4 linked regions of the Homo sapiens genome follow. The protein of the gene in region 1 purifies or fractionates together with the protein of each later gene. This does not show direct contact. Each region holds a gene or a part of one and is shown on either strand. Other genes may lie near its edges.

Evidence for each region.
Region 2: the proteins of TUBB2B (region 1) and TBCD purify together in Homo sapiens (affinity purification with mass spectrometry; 3 studies listed by BioGRID and IntAct, with this or other methods). This does not show direct contact.
Region 3: the proteins of TUBB2B (region 1) and CCT3 purify together in Homo sapiens (affinity purification with mass spectrometry; 3 studies listed by BioGRID and IntAct, with this or other methods). This does not show direct contact.
Region 4: the proteins of TUBB2B (region 1) and EML1 purify together in Homo sapiens (affinity purification with mass spectrometry; 3 studies listed by BioGRID and IntAct, with this or other methods). This does not show direct contact.

What each region holds. Positions count from the first base shown.
Region 1 is NC_000006.12:3,224,623-3,231,538, reverse strand, and holds the start of TUBB2B (tubulin beta-2B chain), read left to right. Parts: upstream 1-3,885; 5' UTR 3,886-3,995; coding exon 3,996-4,052; intron 4,053-4,869; coding exon 4,870-4,978; intron 4,979-5,269; coding exon 5,270-5,380; intron 5,381-5,727; coding exon 5,728-6,788; 3' UTR 6,789-6,916. UniProt on the Homo sapiens protein: Tubulin is the major constituent of microtubules, a cylinder consisting of laterally associated linear protofilaments composed of alpha- and beta-tubulin heterodimers.
Region 2 is NC_000017.11:82,747,682-82,755,088, forward strand, and holds the start of TBCD (tubulin-specific chaperone D), read left to right. Parts: upstream 1-4,383; 5' UTR 4,384-4,512; coding exon 4,513-4,696; intron 4,697-4,810; exon of another isoform or gene 4,811-5,073; intron 5,074-7,407. Other genes in the region: FN3K (fructosamine-3-kinase), read left to right, coding at 1,174-1,296, 2,736-3,074.
Region 3 is NC_000001.11:156,308,468-156,314,292, reverse strand, and holds the end of CCT3 (T-complex protein 1 subunit gamma), read left to right. Parts: intron 1-2,071; coding exon 2,072-2,252; intron 2,253-3,097; coding exon 3,098-3,343; intron 3,344-3,603; coding exon 3,604-3,735; intron 3,736-4,989; coding exon 4,990-5,094; 3' UTR 5,095-5,325; downstream 5,326-5,825. UniProt on the Homo sapiens protein: Component of the chaperonin-containing T-complex (TRiC), a molecular chaperone complex that assists the folding of actin, tubulin and other proteins upon ATP hydrolysis.
Region 4 is NC_000014.9:99,796,404-99,803,439, forward strand, and holds part of EML1 (echinoderm microtubule-associated protein-like 1), read left to right. Parts: intron 1-7,036. UniProt on the Homo sapiens protein: Modulates the assembly and organization of the microtubule cytoskeleton, and probably plays a role in regulating the orientation of the mitotic spindle and the orientation of the plane of cell division.

The sequences.
Region 1 (6,916 bases):
CGCTGCGTTCGTGGGCTCGGGGTTTTCGCTGCTGGTTCCAGCTTTTGGTTGCCCTGCTTGGCTGGTCCCTGCGGGGCCCACGGCTGCGGAAGGACAGGGCTCTGAGGCTGCCACCCCGCAGCCCCTGCGACTAAACAGTGCCGGGCAGCTCCGCCGGGGCCGCTGGCTTCCCAGGCGGAGGAGGGAAGGCCTGGGGGGAAGGGGGAGGGCAATGGAATAGAAACTGGGGAGCGACAAAGCTGAGAAGGCGCAGATCTTGGCGGATCCCGGGAGCTTCCTCCACTGTGTCCTTTCCGCAGTCACAGTATGGGGCTGCGACCGCTTCCTAGCCCCCATGCCCCGGGCATTTGGCTCTTTTACATAAATGCTAGGATTGGTAGCTTTCCAATATTTCTAAATGGAGAGCTATGAGAAGAGGTGATGTGTGTGTGTGTGTGTGTGTGTGTGTGTGTGCGTGTGTGTGTGTAAGGAAATAATGATGGATTTGCAGTCTCTTTCTTTCAACTCCTCTTCATTCATTGGCTAAGTGTCGGTTGCCTAGGAAACCGCGTGCATCTCGGCTGCAGAGCCAGCTATGGGGGCTGCGGGCTGGGTTTTTGGGGTTTTAAGCGGTGAATCCTGGCAAGCAGTGAAGAACCCTAATGCTAAATGTCTAGTAATTTCAATAAATGTGTCAAAAATATATGCTACATTATGAAAACAGTGCTTTAAAAATTTACTACTATATAAAGCCTCTTTTCTATCAGACTTCTTCAAACAATGACTGTGTGTGTAATAGAGAAATGCAAATTCACTTGAGGACATGCCGTTGAAAGTAATCTGAAAATTGTGAAAGCAAATATAATTTTAATAGTTTAAGGGATATCTTGCTCACCTCAGTCACGCAATAGATTACGTATAAAACAAATGTTGAATTGTATTTTATGCAGCAATATTTCTACAATTGTCTCTGGAAGGGAAAATTTTTAAATGTTAGTACATCATCAAGACTAACATTAAGAGATCATGAAATATGTTGCCCCGAAATCTTCGTGCCTGATATACGATGACCTAGATTGAGACGCATTGCATATAATGAATAGACAGAAATGCTGGGGACCCAACTGAAAACGACTTTTTTTTTCTTTGAAAGCCGGGTACCAGTCTCTTTATGCGAGCTACATGGATTAAGAATGATTTTTTTGTTTAAGGGTTATCAGATAAACTGAAAGACTTCAGGGAAAGGTGTGGCTGTTGTCAACATTTTAACACAAAATCGGCTCCTTGTGAAAATAAAAATGTGCAGCATCACAATTCCAGTGGGGGTGGGGGTGGGGGTGCGATGTAGACCGGTTAACAAGACTGGCTGCCCGGAAGGGGCAGGGGTGTGGGGACAATTCGAGCAAAATGCTTGAAAGGAAAGCAGATCTTGGGCCAAAAGTGTCCCCAAGGGCACTCTGGGCTTTCAGAAGGATGATTTCCAGCCTCATCCTATCCCAAACCAACCCCTTTAAAAGAAACCTGAGAGGAAAGGGTCTTTTCATCTATCTATATGATCTTGAACACGCGTTTTCACCCGGGCACTGAATGGAGATTTGGCTCGGAAACAGAAGCTGAGAAATGAATTGGTTAGATGAAGGAGGCAGGCGGCCAGCTCAAGTTACTCAGCATGGAGCTGAGCGGCCCCCAACCCCACCCCCCAGCGCTGAGCATCAGGGTTGCTCCTGGGAGCTCGCAGCGAGGGGGTGACCGCTCCGAGTGTGTCTACACTCGCCGCGCGGGTGCCGCCCTAGCTCTGTTCCTTCCGGCGCAGCTTGGTCCCACCAGAGCCGCCACCTCGAGGCTGACACCTGCCACAGCCCTTTTGGCCGAGATGCGGTCACTTTCCCTGAGGTCTGGTGTGCCCAAAAGACGAGATTCCAGTCCGAGCCCTGTCCTCAACTTGCTGTATGACCTTGGGAATTGCTAGCCCTCGACGTTTCGGCATCTGCAGGATCTGGATTAGAAACTCGGAGGTCAGGCCCCGAGACCTTGGTACCGGGAGAGCAGGGCATGTGGACAGACCCTCCGCTGCTCTCTGCCTCTCGGTAGACCCCACCCTCACCCGGGCACGCCGGCCGGGTCTGGAATACCGGCCGGCGAGCTCCAGTCTGGGCGCCCTGGATGTTTGGGGGCGCCTGGGCTTTTGTTCTCGCTACTTCTCTTTGTACATTGGAATCGACTTGAACCCCCCACCCTCCACCCCACAGCGGGAAAGGGAGGCGATGACAGCTTGCTGATAGTTCTGGGAGGGTCTCGCTCAACAGCTGCAGGCTGAGCTCCGCCGCGTGCGCCCGGGTCATTCGGCCTTTCTCGCCAGGGGATGAAAGAGGTCACGTCACCTCGCCAACGGCCCTTCCGAAGTGTGGGGCGGCGCGCTTCAGTCATCGAATTGCAGGGAACAGGTTGTGCAGTGAACGTTTCTGACACCCTTTCCCCTCCCGCCCTCAAACGCACGCAGGATTAGTCTCTCTCTCTCTCTCTTTCTCTCTCTCTCTCACACACACACACACACACGCGCGCGCGAAAAGTAACAAAGAGACCAGTTCCTGCCTCAGTACCTAGAGACTGCGGATCTGAAGGGAGGGTCTGTGCTCCAAGTCTGTGCACGCGCTCGTGCGAGTGCGCGTGGGTCTTGGGTCGTCTCGCGCGCGCTGGGCTGCAGTTTTTAGTCGTATTCCCCACCCTTCAACCGCAGCACGAAGCCTCGGACCTCCAGGTCGCCGCGATGGAAGATAAGAAAGTTTGTTACTCGGGCTTGGGCCACCCTTGGAACCCACCCTCTTACTTGACAATAGATGAACTGAATCCGAGGGCGGGGTGGGGGGGTGGGGCGCCTGTCGTGTGGTTTTAAATACTGGGTTACACAGCGTATCCCACGTTTCTGAGAGCCCTTTGTTCCGCCGACAGCCCCGCCCCCGGGACCCCACCCTCTTTCTGCCCTCCGGACGGTCAGTGCAGCGCCACCGGCCACTCCCACTCCATCACTAGCGAGCAACAAAAGTCAACCCCCGGGGCAGAGGGCTCCTGGGTACCAGCAGGGGCGTTATGCACTCCCGGAGAGGGTCGGGCAGGGCTGAGGGGCTCCGAGGTCGCTTCACCCCTAGATGCTGCGGCGCAGTGAGAGGAGCTACCAGCCCAAGACAGACAAAGGAGAAAGCAGGCCCACGCTGGGGCGGGGGCGGAGGCCGCGCTGGTGTTCATGGGCCGCAGGTGTCCCGGTTGCCATCAAGCACGACTTCCTTCTGGGGCCACCTGTCCTCCCCCAGGCCTCTGTGAGACGGAGCGCCGCCTGGGCAGTCGCTGGCCTCCAGGGTTGAGGAAAAAGACGGTGGTCTCACCAGGGGCAGTTGGCTGGAGGGACTCTGGCCAGTGGCCGAGTAGGAGCCGCAGTCCGAGGTGGCGGAGCAGCCTGTGCCACCTCAGCCCTCCCACCTGCCGGCACTGGAGCACCTGACGGCTTCTCCACATGCTCCAGTCCTCCATCGTTCCCATCCGGTGCCAGCTCTGCCCCCACCCCGGTCAGGACGCGCTGGTGGCCCTCGCCTCGCCGCCCTCTCACCCTCCTTTTCTTCACTGTTCCCCCATATCCCCATACCCAGACCCCCACCACAGCCCCAGACAATGCGCACGCCCCCACCATACTCCCGGTAGCCCCCACCCCTCTCCCGGTCGGCACGCCCGCTCTGATTGGCCGCGGGCCGGTGGTCCAGCCCCCCGGACGGTCCCTAGGGCTCGGAGCATTACGTCAGCCGGGCCTGGAGAGCGCCAGCGCGAAGGGGACTGGGGGGCTCGGGCTGGGGGCGCGGCCTGTGCCGGCCGCCCCACCCTCCTTGCATAAAAGCCGGAGCCCGCGGGGCCGGCGCTCTCAGCCCGTCGGTTCCCGAGCGCCTTCCCGGTGACCCCGCAGTGGGTGTGTGAGGGGAGGACGGACAGACCCAGACGCCGCCGGACCAGGAGGACGCTGACGAGGCACCATGCGTGAGATCGTGCACATCCAGGCGGGCCAGTGCGGCAACCAGATCGGCGCCAAGGTGGGCGCGCCGCAGCGGAGGGGGTCCAATGGGGGCGCGAACCTGGGCCGAGAGCCCCTCGGGGTCCCCAGGCGCGGTCCTGGGAAGGCCTGGGGATCGCCAAATGCAGACCTTCCTGGCCGCTTTGTGCCGCCGAGTGTGGCCTGGGCTAGGAGGTGACTTTCGCGGACGGAGGGGGCACCTCTCTTTCTTTCTGCTGTAACTCATTTGGAGTCCCCGTCACCCCCTCGGCCTCCCTCCGCGCTGGCTGCTTGGCAGGCACGCGTGCCTGGAGAAGACGAGGGTGTGTCCGCGAGGCTGTGCGCGGCGCTCCGCGCGAGGGGCTGGGACACCAGGAGGATTAATTGTACTCGCTTGAACCGGAGTCGAGCTGCCGGGGGAGGGGAGGAGAGCGATTGTCTTGCGGTCTCAGGACGTGCTTTGAATCTAAAACCGCGGTCCTTTAGCTCCTTTGCGTTCCTCTTTCCCCGCCCACCCGCTCCTGGCGGGCTGCAGTCCCTGTGCCCTCGCCTCCTGCCGCAGCCTGGGGCTGCGACCAGTGCGCCAAGCTCCGCCACTGCCCGGCTTTGGCTGGTCCTTACCCCCTCGACCCCTACCTCCCCCCGCGAGCGGCAGCTGTTTGCCTGGGAAACGCCCAGTTTCAACTTTCTGAACCTGCAAAATACAAGCCCCGCGGCTGTGCCCGGGTCACGACGCCCTTTAAAGCTTCAAGCTCCTGAAATGTTGGGTTGTCGGAACTGAGTCGGGGACATTTCATTGTGAGCCTTGGCGTTTCTGGGGGCATCGTTCATGGCTAAATGCAGCCTTTCTGTCTCAGTTTTGGGAGGTCATCAGTGATGAGCATGGGATTGACCCCACTGGCAGTTACCATGGAGACAGTGATTTGCAGCTGGAGAGAATCAATGTTTACTACAATGAAGCCACTGGTAATCACCCTTGCCCCACCCCCACTCCCTTCAGTTTTTCCACCTTCTCCCCTTTCCCTTGCGTGGGACCCCAGGGGTGTGGCCCTGGGAGAGGGTGGACTATTCAGTTTAGGATCCCCGCTCTTTCCCTGCAGTATTTCATTGGGCTTCCTTATGCCAACAGAGCCCTTTGAGAACCTGATGGTGGGTCTCCCTTTGTTTGGGGCAACATCTGCATGATGGCAGCAGGCGCCAAGCCCTTCTCTGCAGAGGTCCTTGCCTGAGGGTCTAAGTCACTGTTGTTCCTTGCAGGTAACAAATATGTTCCTCGGGCCATCCTCGTGGATCTGGAGCCAGGCACGATGGATTCGGTTAGGTCTGGACCATTCGGCCAGATCTTCAGACCAGACAATTTCGTGTTTGGTGAGTGCCTGGTGTGGCTGAGAGCATGAGGGATTCATTTTACGCTGGGCAGTGGAGGCTGAAGAGGTGTGATTGCCAGAGGGAAAGCATGAAGAACATCCGCGGTGTGCCAACTTAGCTTTAATATAGTGTAAAATTGTTTGCCTTTCAGCTGCTAAGAGCTTGGTGTCCTGGCCTTCCTTATTTATAATTATATTCATGAACAAATATTTTAACGTTTGGCCATTTTGGTGATAATCTGAAATAGTCTTATCTGAGCATTGACTCACTGATCTATATTGAGGGGTTTGAGGTAAGGTATTTAGTACAATCACCGGTGACTTAAGATTTCTCTTTCCCTCTGGCAGGCCAGAGTGGAGCCGGGAATAACTGGGCCAAGGGCCACTACACAGAGGGAGCCGAGCTGGTCGACTCGGTCCTGGATGTGGTGAGGAAGGAGTCAGAGAGCTGTGACTGTCTCCAGGGCTTCCAGCTGACCCACTCTCTGGGGGGCGGCACGGGGTCCGGGATGGGCACCCTGCTCATCAGCAAGATCCGGGAAGAGTACCCAGACCGCATCATGAACACCTTCAGCGTCATGCCCTCACCCAAGGTGTCAGACACGGTGGTGGAGCCCTACAACGCCACCCTCTCGGTCCACCAGCTGGTGGAAAACACAGATGAAACCTACTGCATTGACAACGAGGCCCTGTATGACATCTGCTTCCGCACCCTGAAGCTGACCACCCCCACCTACGGGGACCTCAACCACCTGGTGTCGGCCACCATGAGCGGGGTCACCACCTGCCTGCGCTTCCCGGGCCAGCTGAACGCAGACCTGCGCAAGCTGGCGGTGAACATGGTGCCCTTCCCTCGCCTGCACTTCTTCATGCCCGGCTTCGCGCCCCTGACCAGCCGGGGCAGCCAGCAGTACCGGGCGCTCACGGTGCCCGAGCTCACCCAGCAGATGTTCGACTCCAAGAACATGATGGCCGCCTGCGACCCGCGCCACGGCCGCTACCTGACGGTGGCTGCCATCTTCCGGGGCCGCATGTCCATGAAGGAGGTGGACGAGCAGATGCTCAACGTGCAGAACAAGAACAGCAGCTACTTCGTGGAGTGGATCCCCAACAACGTGAAGACGGCCGTGTGCGACATCCCGCCCCGCGGCCTGAAGATGTCGGCCACCTTCATCGGCAACAGCACGGCCATCCAGGAGCTGTTCAAGCGCATCTCCGAGCAGTTCACGGCCATGTTCCGGCGCAAGGCCTTCCTGCACTGGTACACGGGCGAGGGCATGGACGAGATGGAGTTCACCGAGGCCGAGAGCAACATGAACGACCTGGTGTCCGAGTACCAGCAGTACCAGGACGCCACGGCCGACGAACAAGGGGAGTTCGAGGAGGAGGAGGGCGAGGACGAGGCGTAGATGCCCCCGCGAGACGGGTTAGGGAAAGCGGAGGAGGAAAGCGAGGGGGTGGGGGGCTTCCCGGGACGATAACCTGGCAGTGGAAGGAAAGAAGCATGGTCTACTTTAGGTGTGCGCTGGGTCTCTGG
Region 2 (7,407 bases), on another chromosome or scaffold:
AGCCACCAGGCCTGGCCTTCCTATTGATTTCTAATTGAATTTGATTATACTTTGCATGCTTAAATTCTTCTCAATTTATTGAGATCTGTTTGCATGGAGAGAGAAATCCTACTCTATTCCTCTTCTTATAGGCCACTAATCCTATTGGATTAATAATTCACCCTTACGATTTTATTTAACCCTAATTACCTCCTAGAGGCCCTTCCTCCAAATACAGGTATATTAGGGGTTAGGGCTTCAACGTAGGAACGGGGGTGGGCACCATTGAGTCAATAGCAGGATATGGGATTTATCTATTTTTCCTGCAGTTCTTTTACGTATTTTGAAGCTGTGTTATTAGAGGTGTAGGCATTTAGGATTATTATGTTCATTAGTCGACTCCCTTTGTGAAATGACTATATTTGATTTTCTTTGCTTTGAAATCTACTTTGTCTTGTATTAATGTAGCCACTCTAGCTTTCTTTTTTTTTTTCTTTTTTTTTTTGAGATAGAGTTTCACTCTTGTTGCCCAGGCTGGAGTGCAATGGCGCGATCTCGGCTCACTGCACCCTTTGCCTGTGGGTTCAAGCGATTCTCCTACGTCAGCCTCCCAAGTAGCTGGGACTACAGGCCCACGCCACCATGCCCGGCTAATTTTGTATTTTTAGTAGAGATGGAGTTTCCTTATGTTGCCTAGACTGGTCTTTAACTCCTGGGCTCAAGGGATCTGCCCACCTCAGCCTCCCAAAGTGCTGGGAATTGCAGGCGTGAGCCACTGTGCCTGGCCTCCAGCTTTCTTTTGACTAGTGTTAGCATGGTATATCTTTTCTATCCTTTCAAGCTTTTTTTTTTTTTAGTAGATAATGTCTTTTTGCACATAACTTATTGTTGGATTTGCTTTATTTTTCCAACCTGCCAATCTGTCATTTACCAAGAGTATTTATTTTTGACATTCGTATTTAATGTGCTTAGTCATATAGTTTTGAGTCTGTCATCTTGCAATTTGTTTTTTGTTTCATCTGCCCTTTGTTCTCTCTTTACCTGCCTTCCTCTGGGTTGAGTATTTTATGTTTCTGTCTTACCTCCTTTGTTGGCTTACTAGGTATCTTTGCTGGGTTTTGAATGGTCCCTCTAGGGTTTAGGCAGCACTTGGCTCCGAATTGCAACAGTGGCCTCTTTTCCCTTGTTGTCCAGGTGAATGAGTGGCAGGATGACTGGCCGACCTTTTTCGCCCGGCACCGGCTCCAGGCGCAGCTGGACCTCATTGAGAAGGACTATGCTGACCGAGAGGCACGAGAACTCTGGTCCCGGCTACAGGTGGGCACGGCAGTGACTTCTCTGGGAAAGAGCTGGTCCTCTCATGATCCCGCCGCATTTGTGCGGGTTCATCTGTAAAACGGAGCTGGAGCAGGGAACACTGAGTCCTGGAGCACACATCAGGGAGGAAGGGGGGCAGGGGCGGGGGTTCCCCCAAAAGGGAGTCCGAAAGGAGTGAGGAGTGAAGACACACTTGGCTCCTCGTGCCCCTCTCCACTGCTAGGTCACCAGGTATTTAGCCTCAGACTTTCCTCATGTGAAACACAGGTGCTTGTAAATGGTGGTGTTTACCATGATTACTGTTCTTACTATCAGTAACACTTGTCCACTCCATCGTGTTCCTCTCCCATGGGAAGATGTGGGTACCAGATGATCCAGAATGACTGATTTCAAAACATAACTCTCGGCCGGGCACAGTGGTTCACGCCTGTAATCGCAGCATTTGGGAGGCCTAGGTGGGCAGATCACTTGAGGTCAGGAGTTTGAGACCAGCCTGGCCAACATGGTGAAACCCTGTCTGTACTAAAAATGCAAAAATTAACCGTGCATGGTGGTGCATGCCTGTAATCCCAGCTACTCAGGAGGCTGAGGCAGGAGAATCACTTGAACCCGGGAGGCGGAGGCTGCAGTGAGGGGAGATTGCACCATTGCACTCCAGCCTGGACGACAGAGTGAGATCCTGTATCAAAAAGAAAAAAAATCAAAATATAACTCTCAAAATGTTAAAAAAGAATGTGCATGTCAATCCAGAGTGAGTATACATCAAAGAGACTTGAACTCATTAATGAAGAAACTAGGCTGGGCACGGTGGCTCAAGCCTGTAATCCTAGCACTTTGGGAGGCCGAGGTGGATAGATTTTACCTGAGGTCAGGATTTCAAGACCAGACTGGCCAATATGGTGAAACCCCATCTCTACTAAAAATACAAAAATTAGCCGGGTGTAGTGGCGGGTGCCTGTAATCCCAGCTACTCAGTAGGCTGAGGCAGGAGAATCACTTGAATCCGGGAGGCGGAGGTTGCAGTGAGCCGAGATGGCGCCACTGCACTCCAGCCTGGGTGACAGAGCAAGATTCCCTCTCAAAGAAAAAAACAACAAAACCAAACAAAACCTGCAGACATATATGTGTAGCGAAATAAAAGTGGCCAGAGTTTGCTAAGGTAGCGCAACACTGGTTCCTATTCTGTGGGTCGATTAAAACTATAACCTCAGAGGTTCTCCACTGTGTGGGGATTCTAGACCTAAATTAGGAGGAAATCCTAAGTTAGACAAAGCTAGACTCCCCTGAAGTCAGGTGGCCCCTATTTCTGGGCTTGGCAGGCAGTGCTGGGGCTGGACACCGAAGCAGATCGCGAGTGGGCTTTGCCTTATTTCCAAGAACGAGGTGATGAGACCGGGGCTCCCAGAGGCCAGCGATAACTGCAGCCGTTGCTCTCGTAGGTGAAGATCCCGGATCTGTTTTGTGGCCTAGAGATTGTCCCCGCGTTGCTCCACGGGGATCTCTGGTCGGGAAACGTGGCTGAGGACGACGTGGGGCCCATTATTTACGACCCGGCTTCCTTCTATGGCCATTCCGAGTTTGAACTGGCAATCGCCTTGATGTTTGGGGGGTTCCCCAGATCCTTCTTCACCGCCTACCACCGGAAGATCCCCAAGGCTCCGGGCTTCGACCAGCGGCTGCTGCTCTACCAGCTGTTTAACTACCTGAACCACTGGAACCACTTCGGGCGGGAGTACAGGAGCCCTTCCTTGGGCACCATGCGAAGGCTGCTCAAGTAGCGGCCCCTGCCCTCCCTTCCCCTGTCCCCGTCCCCGTCTCCGTCTCCCCGTCCCTGTCCCCCCGTCCCCCGTCCCTGTGCCCCCGTCCCTGTCCCCCTGTTCCCGTCTCCCCGTCCCTCCGTCTCCATCCCCCCGTCCCCCCATCCTCCTGTCCCCGTCCCCCCGTCCCCGTCCCTCCATCCCTGTCCCCCGTCCCCCTGTCCCCCTGTCCACATACCAATCCCCCTGTCCCCGACCCCCCATCCCCGTCCCCCATCTCCGTCCCCGTCCCCCCTGCCCCGTCCCCGTCTCCGTTCCCCCGTCCCCATCCTCCATCCCCGTCTCCCATCGCCGTCCCCCCGTCCCCGTCCCCCGTCCCCGTCCCCCCTGTCCCTGTCCCCCTTCCCCCGACCCCTCCCAGATCCTGGGGACCAATAAAGCCCGCAGCGGGTCTCGGCTGGCGTCCTGCGCCTCGTTCCTCCGCTCGTGGGGCTGCTTTCAGGGCCAGACGCACGGCGAGCTGTGCACGGACGTTTTTGCGGCGATTCAGGGGAAACGCACGCGGACCCGGTAGCCAAGGCCAAAGTCGGCGCAGCGCCCACCGCGGCCTCCGGGCCCCGCTCCCGCTCCCGCTCTGGGGCGCGCCACCACTCGGCGCGGGGCCCGTGTGATCCGCGCGGGTCCCAGCGTGGCGCGAATAAGTGTCAGGGCGGTTGGCTCTGAGGGGTGGGTCCCGGGGCTCGCCTCGCGCCCCCGACTGCGTGCTCAGGCCCCGCCCCTCCCCGTCCACGCATGCTGAGGCTCCGCCCCGCTCCGCGGTCCCCCGGTCCCACCCGCCCCCGCCCCGCCCCCGCCCCGCCCCCCGGCGTGTTGTGGCTCCGCCCCGCTGTCTCCGGCCCCACCGCAAGCCCTGCCCCTCCCACCCACGCGTGCCCGGGCCCCGCCCCCGTTGCGCGCAGCCCCGCCCCCTATCGCGTGCTCAAGCCCCGCCCTGGCGGCCCCCGGCCCCATCCCGAAGCCCCGCCCCCCCGCACACCGCCTGCTCAGGCTCCGCCCCGCTGTCCTCCGGCGGCGGCCTCACCCCGCAGCCCGGCCCACCGCGTCTCAGGCCCCACCTCCTGTCCTGCCCCGCCCACCGCGTGCTCAGGCCCCGCTGAGCGGTCCCGGCTCCGCTCGCGCCCTGTGGGGTCCACGGCGCGCTCTTCCAGAGCCTTTGGGACCCGTGCCCGCTCGCGTCCTCAAGTGCACGCGCCGTCCCGCGCGCGGTATTTTGGCGGCCGACGCGTTCCGTAGCGAGGCCGGCGAGTGGGGTCGGAGGTCGCGGGGCGGGGCCAGCGTCGGTTGCCGCCTTAGCGGGCGCCTCCTTTTCATCCCTCATCCTTCATCCCTGGCTTTCGCGCTCTAGCGGAGTGGGATCTGCGAACACGTGAGGCGGGGGCGCGGTCCCCAGGCTGCCGAGATGGCCCTGAGCGACGAACCGGCCGCGGGCGGCCCCGAGGAGGAGGCGGAGGACGAGACACTGGCCTTTGGCGCGGCGCTGGAAGCGTTCGGCGAGAGCGCGGAGACCCGGGCGCTGCTGGGCCGCCTGCGGGAGGTGCACGGCGGCGGCGCGGAGCGCGAGGTGGCCCTGGAGCGGTTCCGCGGTGCGTGGGCGGCGCCGCGTGCCCGCTTCCTCCCCCGGCCCGGGTTCGGCGCGCTGAGTGCACTTTACCGGGCGGGGACCGCAGCCCGGCGGCGCCGGCCGCTCTGCGAGGGCTGCCGGTGCGCGGTCCCGCGGGCCGTGGTGGGGCGCGGCCTTCCTAGGCGGGAGAGGGCCACCCCGGCGCGGCGTTAGGTGCACGGGGCAGACGCGCGCCTCCCTTGGGGGGACCGTGGCCCGCGGAGCGCCTGCTCTCGCACGGGGTGAAGCCTCTGCGGCCTCCCCGGGAGGCGGGGTGCAGAAGCCCTCCGTCCCCCGTCTCCGTCACTGGAGGAGGTCCCTGGGCTGGGGAGACTCGGGCCAGACCCCTCCGGACAGCTGGTCAGCCCTGCAGTGTGGACTCCCAGGCTTGCCTCCACCGAGCGCGGTTTCTGTGAATGTTGTGTGGACAGGGAGATAGGGAATGAGAGAGGGGGACGCAGGGAACAAACCTGCTGCAAACAAAGCGCGCCTCGGGTGGGGAGGGCAGCAGCCTGTCCGTTCCGTGGACGCCGTGGACAGAGCGGGCTGGCCGGGTCCGTGCCTCTGCAGGCGGGGTGGGGTGTAGGTACCCCTGTGGAGGCCATTCGATGAGTCTAAATTCTCCGAGTTCAGACCCACCTTTACCGCTGTCTATAATGGGTTATTTCCAAACAAGTCCTTAGGAGCTCATAGCTAAGTAGTTACATGGGGTTTTGTAATTCAGTAAAATCATCTTTGTAGACCCTTTGAGTAAGAAGAACTTTTGCATTATTTGGCCTTCCTCATTTTAGAATGACAGCGCTTTGATTTTAGGAGTCAGGCAGGGTGGGGGGCCTTGTGGGAGGAGTGCGGGTTCGGCGTCAGATCCTCCTGCCTGTGAATTCTGGCCCTGTCGCTTGGACCTGATACTTGATTGCCTGTTTCTTCGGGTGTAAGCTGGGGCGGATAACGATGCCTCTCGTGCAGAACTGTTCTGAGGGTGAGGGACCCTCATCCAGGGACCAGTGAAGCCAGATTTTTTGTTCCTGGTGTAACAGCCCAATGGCTTCTTCCTTTTTTTTTTTTTTTTTTTTTTGATACGAAGTCTTGCTCTGTTGCCCAGGCTGGAGTGCAGTGCAGTGGTGCGATCTTGGCTCACTGCAACCTCAACCTCTCAGGTTCAAGCTATTCTCCTGTCTTAGCCTCCCGAGTAGCTGGGGCTACAGGCGCGCGCCACCACGCCCGGCTAATTTTGTATTTTTAGTAGAGGGGGTTTCACCATGTTGGTCAGGCTGGTCTCAAACTCCTGACCTCAAGTGGTCGCCCGACTCAGCCTCCCAAAGTGTTGAGATTACAGGTGTGAGCCACTGCGCTCGGCCCCAGTGGGTTCTTTCTGCGGGCTGCCCAGATAGAGTTGATTTGTCAGGGCAGGGGAGTTGCCATGGAGAAGATTTAGTTCACGCAGAGCCGGTTGAAAGGGAGACTAGACTAGAGGTTTTTTTTTTTTTTTTTGAGGCGGAGTCTCACTTTGTCCCCCAGGGTGGAGTGCAGTGATGAGATCTCAGCTCACTGCAACCTCCACAACCTCCACCTCCCAGGTTCAAGTGATTCTCCTGCCTCAGCCTCCCGAGTAGCTGGGACTACAGGTGCGCGCCACCACGCCCACCTAATTTTTCGTATTATTAGTAGTGACGGGTTTCATCGTGTTAGCCAGGATGGTCTCGATCTCCTGACCTCGTGATCCACCCGCCTCAGCCTCCCAAAGTGAGCCACCACGCCCGGCTGGAGTTTTATTATTACTCAGATCAGTCTCCCTGAGAATTTGAGGGCCAGGGTTTTTTAGAGGTAATCTGGGGGAAAGGGTGGGGGTGGCTGATTGGTTAGGGGTATACAATCATAGGGGAGTCGGAAATGATCCTCCGTGATGTGCTGAATCGCGTCTGCGTGGGGCCCCAGGAGCAGTGGGCGGGTCCAGGTGGAGCTATCATGGGTCCGTGGATCCTAGTGTAGGTGTCAGACATGGAAACAATCTGAAAAGATATCTTTAAAGGCCAGTCTCAGGTTCTGCAATAGTGACATGGTCTGCAGGAGTAACTGGGGAACTCGCATGTCTTGTGATCTCAAGAATAATGGCTGGCAATTAGGTTACGCCTTAGCGGAATTCAGGCTCCTCTCCTCCTCCTAGCCTGGTGGCCTCTCATTAACTTTACAAAGGCAGTTGAGTTTTGGGGAAGGGCTCTTAGCATTTAAACTATAAATTAAATGTCTCCCAGAGGTAGCTTGGCAGCTTGAAGACTAAAGGCATGAGGGGGTTGCCTGGATCAGATCTGCCCCATTGCCATAATTTCCTCACAGATCACTTTTGCAAAGGCAGTTTTGCTGGGAAGCAGTGGGTGTGTTCAGATGTGGAGGTGGGAGCTGCCGGATTGGACAGAAGCAGTTTCAGCTGCTGAGAGGAGGAGAAAGCGGTGGTTCAGGGTCTGGGAGGTTGTGAAGAGCTGGCAGCTGTGTGGAAGGGAGCAGTGCCTGGATATGTCAACCAAAAAGTATCTGAGACGAGTCTCAATCAGTTTAGAAGGTTAAGGGTGTGCCCGTGAGGCAGCCTCAGGAGGTCACATGTCCCCAAGGAAGTCGGGCTACAGCTTAGTTTTACACGTTTTAGGGAGACGTGAGACATCAATCAATACCTGTAAGATGTACATTGGTCTCGTCAGG
Region 3 (5,825 bases), on another chromosome or scaffold:
GCTCTGTCATAAATCCTACGAAGTCATGTACAACATCTGGACACAGTTTGCTCCTGCAGAAATCTATTGTTTTGGGCTTGATGGCTTTCATAAGCTTTATCTATAACAACTGTGGCATCTTCAGTAATGTAATCCTTTCATATTTTCATCATGTTCTCTTTGTTGGGGTTCTCTTTCATAATGTTGACTTTTTTTTTTTTTTTTTTGGAGACAGAGTCTCGCTCTGTTGCCAGGCTGGAGTGCAGTGGTGTGATCTTGGCTCACTGCACCCTCCGCCTCCTGGTTCAAGCGATTCTCCTGCCTCAGCCTCCCGAGTAGCTGGGACTACAGGTGCGCACCACCATGCCCAGCTAATTTTTGTATTTTTAGGAAAGACGGGTTTTCACCATGTTGGCCAGGATGGTCTCAATCTCTTGACCTCGTGATCCGCCCGCCTTGGCCTCCCAAAGTGCTGGGATTACAGGCATGAGCCACCGTGCCCAGCCGACGGTTCTTTACATGAAGTACCATGTGTAATAAGCCTTACAGGTCCTTCTCTGACTGTGTGGTCTAGAGTATTTGAATGTCTTCAGTGTTGAACTCATGGGGCTCTGGGTAGCCAGGGGCATTGTCCAATATCAGAAGCACTTTAAAAGGCAGTCCCTTTCTGGAAAAGTACTTCCTGACTTCAAGGACAAAGCATCGATGGAAGTAATCCAGAAAAAGTATTCTTGTTGTCCAGGCCTGGTTGTACACTACAAGACATAAACTTGACTGCCCAAGGGACAGGCTAACTCCTTTGCACAAAATCCTGGTGCTCCCTTCTCTTTCTTACTAATAAATGTCATTTGTGGCATAATCTTCCTGATTAGGTCGCTTTCATATACATTAAAATTGTATTTAGGCAGATACCATTTCTCCTCAATGATTTCTCTCTCTCTCTCTCTCTCTTTTTTTTTTTTTCTTTTTTTTTTTGAGACAGAATCTTACTCTGTCACCCAGGCTGGAGTGCAGTGGTGAAATCTCAGCTCGCTGCAACCTCTGCTTCCTGGGTTCAAGTGATTCTCCTGCCTCAGGCTCCCAAGTAGCTGGGAGTACAGGCGTGTGCCATGACACCTGGCTAATTTTTTCTTGTATTTTTAGTAGAGGCGGGGTTTCACCAGGCTGGTCTCGAACTCCTGACCTCAAGTCATCCACCCACCTCGGCCTTCCAAAGTGTTAGGATTACAGGCGTAAGCCACCAAGCCCAGCCCTCAATCATTTTCTTAATGGTATCTGGGAACATGTCTGCTGTTTCTTGGTCAGCAGAAGCTGTTTCCTGCTATCTTGACATTTTAAAAGCCAAACAAACCTCTTTCTAAAATTATCAAACCATCCTTTGCTGGCATTAAATTCTCCAGCTTTAGATCTTTCACCTTCCTTTTCTGATGAGGTATCATAATGATTTCACATTTTTTCAAATCATATTAGTGTATATAGGTATGCTGTTCTTACCTATATAAAACCTGCATTTTCAATATGAGATTAATAGGTATATTTCTCAAAAAGCACAGGGTTTTCACAGCTGCTGGCATAGCTGCAGTGCTGCTGTAACTGCAATGATGGCTTCAGTTTTTTTTGTTGTTGTTTTTTGGGGTTTTTGTGTTTGTTTTTTTTTAGATAGGGTCCCACTCTGTTATCTAGGCTGGAGTGCAGTGGCATGGTCACAGCTCACTGCATCCTTGATATCATGGTTTCAAGGGATCCCTCACCTCACCCTCCTGAGTAGCTGGAGCTACAGGTATGCATCACTGTGCCCAGCTAGTTTTTTATTTTTTGTAGAGACAGAGTCTTGTTATGTTGCCCGGGCTGGTCTCAAACTTCTGGGCTCAAGCAATCCTTTTGCCTGGCCTCCCAAAGTACTGGGATTACAAGTGTGAGCCACTGTGCCTGGCCCCCTGAAAATCTTTTTCACCGGACAGGCAAGACCTCTTAAGTGATGTTTCCAACAATCCACTTTTGCCCTTATCCCTAGCTACAGACCCTAGAGACTAGGGAAATGGGTACAAGTATCTGAAATCATCTGATTCTCCCCACCTCTTCCGTCCATTAGAGCCTGTGGGGCCCGGATAGTCAGCCGACCAGAGGAACTGAGAGAAGATGATGTTGGAACAGGAGCAGGCCTGTTGGAAATCAAGAAAATTGGAGATGAATACTTTACTTTCATCACTGACTGCAAAGACCCCAAGGCCTGCACCATTCTCCTCCGGGGGGCTAGCAAAGAGATTCTCTCGGTGAGTCAGCCTTGGATGTATGACCAGATGAAGTAGATCACTGAACTTCTTGAGAGTTTCCCAAAGGGCCTAAAATAATTCTGTGGTCCATTTATAGCTATTTAATTTGGACCTATAGCCACAAATTCCTTTTCTGCTTCCTTTTTTTAATTAAATAATTTAAAATTTTAAAAATTGTAGTAAGCATAAAATTTACCATCTTAATCATTTTAATTGTACAGTTCAGTAATGTTAAGTATATTCATGTTATTGTGCAAGAGATCTTCAGAACTTTTTCATCTTGCAGAACTGAGACTCTGTACCCATCAAACAAGATATCTCATCTCCTACTCCCTAGCAACAACTGTTTTCTTATTTTTTACGTTGAAGTTATAAATATTACTTTTTTTTCCTCATTGAGGCTAAGTAACTTTCCCAAAGGCACATAGCTAGTAAGTAGGAGAGTGTACAACACCATGCAACCTCCTAAAAGATACAACTAGGAAGGGGTGGAATAGGTTATGGCTCTTATCTATCAAGATACATGCTGTTTATTTCCATATAACTGGCAAGGGATGAAATAGGTTATTGCTCTTAATCTAGCATAATGGACAAAGACCTAACTTTATGGTTGGGTGACACCCCCAAACCCTTTGCAGATACCACTCCCCGCCATCCTATATTATAGTCGTGTGTTATATATTCTCAGGTAAATAATCTGCCCTGCCCAGTAGGGGTTCCAAGGACCTTTTCTAGTTGCCCTCCTTGGTGGTTTACTAACTTTGGCAGTTAGGAAGTCCTTTTGGTGCCTCCGATTTTATGAGTCATCAAGCTTTGGCTTCATACTGTCTGTTTGCTTCTCCAAGGAAGTAGAACGCAACCTCCAGGATGCCATGCAAGTGTGTCGCAATGTTCTCCTGGACCCTCAGCTGGTGCCAGGGGGTGGGGCCTCCGAGATGGCTGTGGCCCATGCCTTGACAGAAAAATCCAAGGCCATGACTGGTGTGGAACAATGGCCATACAGGGCTGTTGCCCAGGCCCTAGAGGTCATTCCTCGTACCCTGATCCAGAACTGTGGGGCCAGCACCATCCGTCTACTTACCTCCCTTCGGGTGAGTTCCTCTCCAAGCTTTTCTCTTGATGGAGCAGGGAAAGCTGTGTTTGCCCTGAGGGGAAGATTCTTATCTGGCTATCCAAATTCTCTTTATAGTCTATTCCTTGAAATCTTTCTCTCCTTTTAGTCTTTGACTTGTTTGCTGTCATTGCCATTTTTCCCTGTCCCTTCCATACTGGTCCATTGTTTTTTACTTCATTTCTTACCTGATGTTTCCTGTTAACTTATTTTCCCCTTTACTTCTTGCTTCAATTGCAGGCCAAGCACACCCAGGAGAACTGTGAGACCTGGGGTGTAAATGGTGAGACGGGTACTTTGGTGGACATGAAGGAACTGGGCATATGGGAGCCATTGGCTGTGAAGCTGCAGACTTATAAGACAGCAGTGGAGGTAAGGCACCCTAAGATATGTACACGCTGTTTTAATTAATTTATTTATTTATCTATTTATTTATTTTTGAGACGCAGTCTCAGTCACCCAGGCTGGAGTGCAGTGGTGTGATCTCGGCTCACTGCAATCTCCGCCTCCCGGGTTCAAGCAATTCTTGTGCCTCAACCTCCCAAGTAGCTGGGGCTACAGGCATGCACCACCACTCCCAGCTAATTTTTGTATTTTTTAGTAGAGATAGGGTTTCACTATGTTGTTCAGGCTGGTCTCGAACTCCTGACCTCAGATGATCTACCCACCTTGGCCTCCCAAAGTGCTGGAGTTACAGGCATGAGCCACCATGCCCAGCCTGGTCTAGTCTTGAAGGGAGGGGTAAAGAAGGCAGAATATTCCTCTAAGGTATTCCAAGGCATTCTATCTCTTTAATTATCTTTAGCTCGTACTAAAAGCAAGATAATATAGCACAATCTGTATCACTTGCTTAGGGAGAAGTGCATTTTTTTTTTTTTTTTTTTTTTTTTTTGAAACAGACTATCGCTCCGTTGCCCAGGCTGGAGTGCAGTGGCATGGTCTCCGCTCACTGCAGCCTCCACCTCCCAGGTTCAAGTGATTCTCCTGCCTCAGCCTCCCAAGTAGCTGGGATTACAGGTGCCTGCCACCACACCCGGCTAATTTTTTCTATTTTTAGTAGAGACGGGGTTTTACCATGTTGGCCGGGCTGGTCTCGAACTCCTGACCTTGTGATCCACCTGCCTTGACCAACCAAAGTGCTAGGATTACAGGTGTGAGCCACCACACCTGGCTGAGAACTGCATTTTACATTCAGGACTGAAAAGGCCGGGCATGGTGGGTCACGCCTGTAATCCCAGCACTTTGGGAGGCTAAGGCAGGTGGATCACGTGAGGTCAGGAGTTCAAGACCAGCCTGACCAACATGAGGAAACCCCATCTCTACTAAAAATACAAAATTAGCCAGGCATGGTGGTGCAGGCCTGTAATCCCAGCTGCTTGGGAGGCTGAGGTAGTAGAATCGCTTGAACCCGGGAGGCGGAGGTTGCAGTGAACCGACATCATGCTACTGCACTCTAGCCTGGGTGATAAGAGGGAAACTGCGTCTCAAAAAAAAATAAAAGACTGAAAAGGTAGATTTCAGACAAAATGGCAGTTCCATAGTAGCATCTAGGTGATAGATCTAAAGGAAAGAAAAGTGTCCTTTCCTTCTCTGCTGACCTCTTTGCATCTGTGGTTTTTCTCCTAGACGGCAGTTCTGCTACTGCGAATTGATGACATCGTTTCAGGCCACAAAAAGAAAGGCGATGACCAGAGCCGGCAAGGCGGGGCTCCTGATGCTGGCCAGGAGTGAGTGCTAGGCAAGGCTACTTCAATGCACAGAACCAGCAGAGTCTCCCCTTTTCCTGAGCCAGAGTGCCAGGAACACTGTGGACGTCTTTGTTCAGAAGGGATCAGGTTGGGGGGCAGCCCCCAGTCCCTTTCTGTCCCAGCTCAGTTTTCCAAAAGACACTGACATGTAATTCTTCTCTATTGTAAGGTTTCCATTTAGTTTGCTTCCGATGATTAAATCTAAGTCATTTGAGAAAGTTGTTATGTGTTTTTCAACCTTGGGCCATCTCTCTTATCTCCTGGCAAATAGGTGGAGGCAGAAAACCTTACTGGGGAGGGAAAGGAGACCTGGAATGAGGGCATTTAGACTCTTTTGCCTTCTTGAGGGAGTATTCTTCAGACTTCTCAGTAAATTTTGGTTGGAAAGACCCTTTTGGAGTTCAAAGGATAATACTGTAAAGCTTACAAAGCACCATTTTGCATTCACTGCCCAAAGAACAAGAGGAACCTGTCTAAAGCATGGGTGTTCCCCATATGTGGTTGTATGTAGAGGAACACCCAGTACATCCTAGGGCTCTGGCATGTGTCCTAAAGGACATATAACTTTTTTTTTTTTTTTGGTGTAGTTTTCAGAATTCTCCCTTTACCATGAGTTATTTTTCTCTGCCCTCTTCCAATGTTTTTACAATTCCAGTCTTCATTTTGGCTTGCTGACCTTTTCTCATGCCAGTATCCTGTCACAGTCAGACCTCT
Region 4 (7,036 bases), on another chromosome or scaffold:
AACTGTCTTTCTCATTTAAGCAGAAAATGTGTGCATTGTTTTCTTCAGAGTATTTGAAATCTGTAAAGTGAGCTAGAAATCACAAGCTTTTTTTTTTTTTTTTCTTTGAGCCACACCTTGCTCTGTGACCCAGGTTGGAGTGCAGTGGCATGATCACAGCTCACTGCAGACTCAAACTCCTGGGGCTCAAGCAGTCCTACCTCAGTCTCTCAAGTAGCTGGGACTACAGGTGCGTGCTATCATGCCCAGCTCACAAACTTCTTTTAATGCTGGGAAAAAAAAAAAACCTGAAGTGTTTTAAAAAGTGAACAGTAGCTATCCTTTATAAGACAATTTATGATTTGGGAAATAACTCCATATTTTCTTCGAGGCCTCATTTTGAAGTAGGTGGTGTTACCATCCTTCCTTTGTGCCTGAGAAAACGGAGGCTCGAAGAGATTTGGCAACTTTATCAGGCCACAGAACTAGGAAGGGCTTGGATACCAGTCTAAATCTTTGTGTGTGTATGTGTGTGTGTGTGTGTGTGTGTGTGTGAGAGAGTAATAGCTTTATTGAAATATTTACATACCATAAAAATGTGTTTTTAAAGTGTACCATTAAGTGCGTGTAGTATATTCACAGAATTGTCCAGTTGTTACCACTCTCTGATTTTAGAACCTTTGCATTACTCCAGAAGAAACCCTAGTACCTACTAGCAGTCACTCCATGTTCCCCCATCGCCCTCACCCCTGGCAACCATTAATCTACTTTCTGTCTTTATAGATTCTGGGCATTTTATTTAAATGGAATTATAGAATGTTTGGTATTTTGTTCCTGGCTTCTTTCACTTAGCATATGTTTTAAGGTTCATCCATGTTGTAGCCTGTGTCATCATGCCATTCCTTTTTATGGCCAAATTATATTCCCTTGTGGAGAGATACCACACTGTTTAAATCTGTTACTTGTTGATGGGTTATTTGGGTTATTTCCACTTTTTGACTCTTATCAATAATGCTACTATGGGCACTCACATGCACATTTTTGTGTGGACCTATGTTTTCATTTCTCTTGGGCAGATATCTAGGAGCAGAATTGCTAGGTCATATGGTAACTCTGGGCTTAACATTTTTAGGAACCAGTCTTAACTTTTTGAAACCTAAATATTAAGCTTGTTTTATTATACATTTTTGATAAAAGAATAAGTAATTAAGGAAATGGATGAAAGAGGGAAAGAAGTGGGAGCAAGTAACAAAATGTTGCTCATGCATTTCCATGAGTCCTTTGGATCCTTTGATCAATCACAGCTCACCAAAACGAGTCAGTGCACAACTGCACGTGGTTGCCACAGGTTATAAGAATCTCAGTGCCTGAACGGACCTGGCAAGTAATCTCATCTCATGGTTTACTTTCTTAAGCCTTTGAGCTGTTTCTTCAAAGTAAAGGTTACCCAGGAACCCAATGGTAAAGCAGATAGATACAGAGCTGGCATAGCTGACAGGGAGTGGGGAGAGGATGGTGCTTTGGCCCTCCTCTCCTTCCCCCACCCCTCCAGCTTGAAATCTCTGCCCTGTGGGGGAAGCTGGAAAGGCTGTTCAAAGCTAGAAAGGCTGTTCAACCTGTGCATGAGCATTTTCAAGAGACTGGAAAGTAACTACCTCTCCAGGCAATCCATTTTTTCTCCAGACAGTTCAGACTGTCAGTTCCTACAAGCAGTGAAAAATCAGCCGAAGTTGTGTTCCTTGGGTCCGTAGAGAATAGGTTTAATATCTTATCCATATATTAGGTCATCACATGTTTGAAGACAATGATTATAGTTCTTTCTCACATCTTCTAGCTCTTAAGACGTAATTTTAGACCCTTAATCATCCTGGTTGCTTCATCTACACCTGTTTCCTTTTGTCTGTATTTCTTTCTTAACTTGATACAACTGAATGTGGTATTCCAGGCATGTTTTCTACACAAAGAAGATTAGAATTGGATATGTCACCTCCCTTATTCCAAAGTCTATACTTTTTTTTTTTTTTTTTCGAGACAGAGTCTCACTCTGTCGCCCAGGCTGGAGTGCAGTGGTGCAATCTTGCCTCACTAAAACCTCCGCCCCCTAGGTTCAAGCAGTTCTCCTGCCTCAGCCTCCAGAGTAGCTGGAATTACAGGCGTGTGCCACCAGCCTGGCTAATTTTTGTATTTTTAGTAGAAATGGGGTTTCACCATGTTGGCCAGGCTGGTCTCGAAGTCATGACCTCAGGTGATCTACCCTTCTCAGCCTCCCAAAGTGCTAGGATTATAGGCATGAGCCACTGTACCTGGCCTATACTTCTAATAATGCAGCCTAAGGTTATATAGACTCCATTTCTTGTCACATCACATTATTACCTTTTACTGATTTTCAAGTAAAATTCTTGTGTACTTTACATGTACTATGGCTAAATCTTTTCTTAAATTTAATTACCTTTTTTTTTTGAGGGTAAGTTTCCTCGAACAGGCAGAGCCCTATCAGATTACAACACCATTATAATCTGTGTTGTAATGCTATAAATAATCCCAGCACTTACTAAGATATTTCAGCATTATAGTAACATTGAAATTGACCATTGCCTTACAGGGTTGTGATTGTGGTTAATAGCCTTTTTTCTTCTTGCCTTGGAAGGTGTCATGAGAGAATTATCAGATGCCCTCTAAGGCCTGACTGGAGCGTATCTGCCATGTCCCAGATCTGGCCTGGCTTCTTCTCCTGCAGGTGCTACTTGTTAGTAACTACAGCGGGTCGAGTCCATGGGACCTGCCCAGTCAAATTTTGAAATCACTATAATAATCCTTTGAGCGACTGAAGTTTATTTTTTCTAGTTTTGCAATGGAATGTTGTTTTAATTTCTAAACATTTATATTTTGGAAATTAACAATAATTTATTTAATAATCTTAAACATCTTTTGACATCTCTAATACTGATGACATTCTCTTAACTATGATTACAGCAGGATTTTCAAGTTGACACCTCGATGGTTATAAACAAGTAGTTGGATTTAAAAGGAACACCTGTAAGGAAATTATCCAAACTCAACGCTCCGAAGTATTTTCAGGCCTCTTTTGCATTCTCATGCAGTGACAGAAGACTGACTGAGGCATTCTGTGATAGCAAAATCGGAGGAAAACGCTTTCATGGAAAAGTGCAAAGCAAAAGCACCCACGCTAAGCGAGAATTTCTAATTAGTATACTTGGTGCTCCAGCCAGGAAGGAACTTATAGCCAAACCACAACCATTTATCACATTATAAACAAACCCACGCATTTTGGTGGAAAAAAATCACAAAACTGTGCTTAAAAAGTAACCATTAATTGGTTATTGTCCATTTCTGGGATAGTGTAAACCTTTTCACATATTCTCTTAAAAAACATTTTAGTTGAGTGGAGGTTGGATAAGAGAGGAGAAATAACATCTTTGTTTCTAGTGTTACAGCTTGTTCATGCTATAAAACTAGTAGCGTGAAAACCTTCATCATGGATAACATTGAAAACGGAACATGAAAGCATTGCTCTCTCTAGTAAGACAGTCTCTCCAAGGACTTAAAATCAGTGGCATTTTGTACTCCTTACAAAAATTTCTTTCAGGAACAACTATTCATCCTTAAAATTTTATCAAGCTCATTAATAGAGGGTTTCTAGTATTAGCAAAATTTTTAAACACCTTCAGAAGCATTACTAATTACAAACAAAAAGTGTGCTGTAAACTCTAAAAGCTGTATAATTATTATTGATACCACCCGTCACCCCCAGCTTCATGTTTTTCTCACTAGACGTTTGGCACATAGATTTCATTTCTGCTGAAGGCTGCACATTCATTTTAATCTGGCCCAGGACTGGGGGTGTGCGAAGGTGTCAGCAGGAGCAAGTGCATACTCTCTTTGGTTTACTTTTTAAGAAATACCTCTTCAGAAGAGTTTTTCTTTCTTTAAAGGACTTGTTTTTTTTTTAAGTTTAATTAATTATTTATTTTTTATTTAGAGTCAGGGTCTCACTCTGTTGCCCAGGTTGGAGTGCAGTGGTGTGATCATGGCTCACTGACCTCGAACCCTTGGACTCTAGCAATCCTCACACCTCAGCCTCCCGAGTAGCTGGGACTATAGGCATGCGCCACCACACCTGGCTAAATTTTAAAAAAATTTTTTAGAGATGCAGTCTTTCTTTGTTGCTCAGGCTGGTCTTGAACTCTCCTCAAGAGATCCTCCTGCCTTGGCTTCTCAAAATGCTGAGATTAAGCATGAGCCCCTGCACCCAGCTAATTTTTAAGATTCAGTTTAGTTAGATACATTTCCATTTTTGTTTACTCTAAGGTTCTACCTTTACTGGCAAATACTGTTGGCGGGGAAAACCATTTTTTGCAGAGTACTCTCAGTTGTGTGTTAAAATGCAGTCATTTATTTATTCTGCCAGCTTTCTGGAAAATATTTAAACTCTCTATCTTTAATAAACCATCCCCACAGTGTAGGGGCAGGTTCGACCTATAGACTTGGGTGATGCCTGAGGGCACTTACTCCAAGCCCAGGGCCTGCCCGAGGTAGGGAGTCTTACAGGAGACCTTCCCACCTGCCGAGGCCCTGCTGTCAGAGGGAGGGGAAGCAGAGGTGACTGGCCCCCTGAGGCCAGCGGCCAGATCCATGCATTTATCATGGTGTGGTCCAGGACTGGTGGTACCCTTCACTCTGCAAAGCCCCTGTAAGGGAGACCCACCGTCCTGGACTGCAGATTCTTCCCACAAATAACCTTTGAAGGACAATGGGCAGCCCACAGTTAAAGATAACAAGGATAGAAATGGTTAGGCGAATATTCATGGAGAGACTTGAGTCCGTTTGGCAAATCGGGCTGATTTCCAGTGAATACCTACAGTGGGCGTAGGACAATTAAACATGTCAAAAATGTAGTCTCCCCTGTAAACATTAGATTCTCCTAGTAATTGGCCGGGCACGGTGGCTCATGCCTGTAATCCCAGCACTTTGGGAGGCCGAGGTGGGCGGATCATGAGGTCAGGAGATCGAGACCATCCTGGCTAACACGGTGAAACCCCGTCTCTACTAAAAATACCAAAAATTAGCCGGGCGTGGTGGCGGGCGCCTGTAGTCCCAGCTACTCGGGAGGCTGAGGCAGGAGAATGGCGTGAACCCGGGAGGCAGAGCTTGCAGTGAGCCAAGATCGTGCCACTGCACTCCAGCCTGGGCCACAGAGCGAGACTCCGTCTCAAAAAAAAAAAAAAGAAATTCTCCTAGTAATCATTTTAGACTCTTCTACCCACTGCCCCATATCTCAGTTGGCTCAGTGGATTCTGCACCCCAAACGTCTCATCATCCATCCCTTCCTCCCTGGCTCGGGCCCTCATCAGTTCTCATCTAGGCTAGGGTTGGGTTTGGTTTTGGCAGCAGACCTAAAGCAGTCTTCCTAACTCTAGTCTTCCATCCGTTCCTTTAAACAAGCACTCAAGTACTCACAGCGTCCATTATTACACTGTTTTAGGGGTTCCAGCGAAATGCGAGGATGACATGGTCCTTAGCCTTAGGAAGCCTAATTTGTTTCTCAGGAGCTAAACATCCAGTGTTATTTTCACACTCACTTCATGACAACAGTGATAGGTTGTTCTAAGAAGTGTAAGGAACAATGGTAGGGTATTGCAGCACTGGGGGGCATGTATCAGGGCGGGCTTCCTAAGAGAGGCATCCGTGAGAGCGTCTTTCTAGTCTGCTCACTGCAGGCGGGTAGGTGGGAGTGGGGAGAGCCATTCGGGCCAGGGAAGCGTCTAAGAAGCCCTGGGTGGGAAAGAACCTTTAGAGAACTGAAAGAAGGTTGCCTGTGGTGAAAGGGAAAGGAGTAGCGTGGCTTGCAGTAGGACTGGGAGCGTGTTTTGGGGACATGGTAAGGAGTTTGGTCTTCTTCCTAGGAGCAGTGGGAATACAGGGGAGAATTTTGAGGCAAGGGAGCGACTTGTTCACATTTTTTGTTTTAAAAGATCACTCTGCTTCCAGGGGGAGGGCAGGTGGGAAGGGCAGTCCAGGGTGGAGGTAGGAGGGTAGAGGTGGGGGGCCATGGCAGTAACCCAGGGAGAGGCAATGGTGATTCACCCTGGGCGGGGTGTTGGGAGCAAGACGCAGGAGATACTTAGTGGGTAACATCCTGTATTTACATTAAGAGTGGGGAGAGGGCAGAATCAAGGCTGACGCCCAGGTCTCTGATGCCTGCAACTGGAGATGGCAGGACAGGCCAGGGGGCCTGTGCAGAGATGGCAGTCCAGGCCACGGGGGAGGTGGTTTGGGCTTGTGGGGTAGGAGGACATATGGGATACAAGCTGAGGTGCTGAGCAGGCTGTCGGTGAAGGTCTGGAGCCCGGGAGATGGCTGGGCTGGACATAACATTTGCGAGCCATCAGCATCCAGATAGTAATGGGATCCATGGGCACCGATGAGCTCACCCAGGGGAAATTAGACATTTCGAATGTGCCTCCTGCAAGACAGATCCAGGCAAAATGGCCTCCTGTTTAAAAGCTGACAGCAGCCCTCCCTCCCACTTTAGCACCCAGGGCCCCACTTATCTTCATCCCTGAGTGCCCCCAGGTGCCCTTCCTTCGTCGGTGGCTATGTGGTATTTAGTATAAACCTCTGTCATCATGATTATCCCAGAGGCCTGTCACGGAGGTTTATTTTCAGTCTCCCATTAGATATAAGCTCCTCTGGGCAGACTTTCCTGGGATCGTCTCTGTGTCTTTTGCACCTCAGCAGTGCCTGGCACGTGGTGAGTTTCCTGGTGAAAGGTGGTTGAATAGATTCAGGGTCCATCTTATTTATCTTATAGCACCTCCTCAAACACACGCACCAGGCGCCACCAGGCACCATGCCACACATGTGACAGGTGCATGCCAAATAAAGCACGCCCACCGCTTCCCTGTGTGCTTGAAACAACGTGTATCAATGTGTATAGTATATACCACATGTGCATATAACTGTATGTATACCTGCGTATCTACGTGCATTATACACACATGCACACATGTGACATTGAACTCTACCCTTCAGCAAA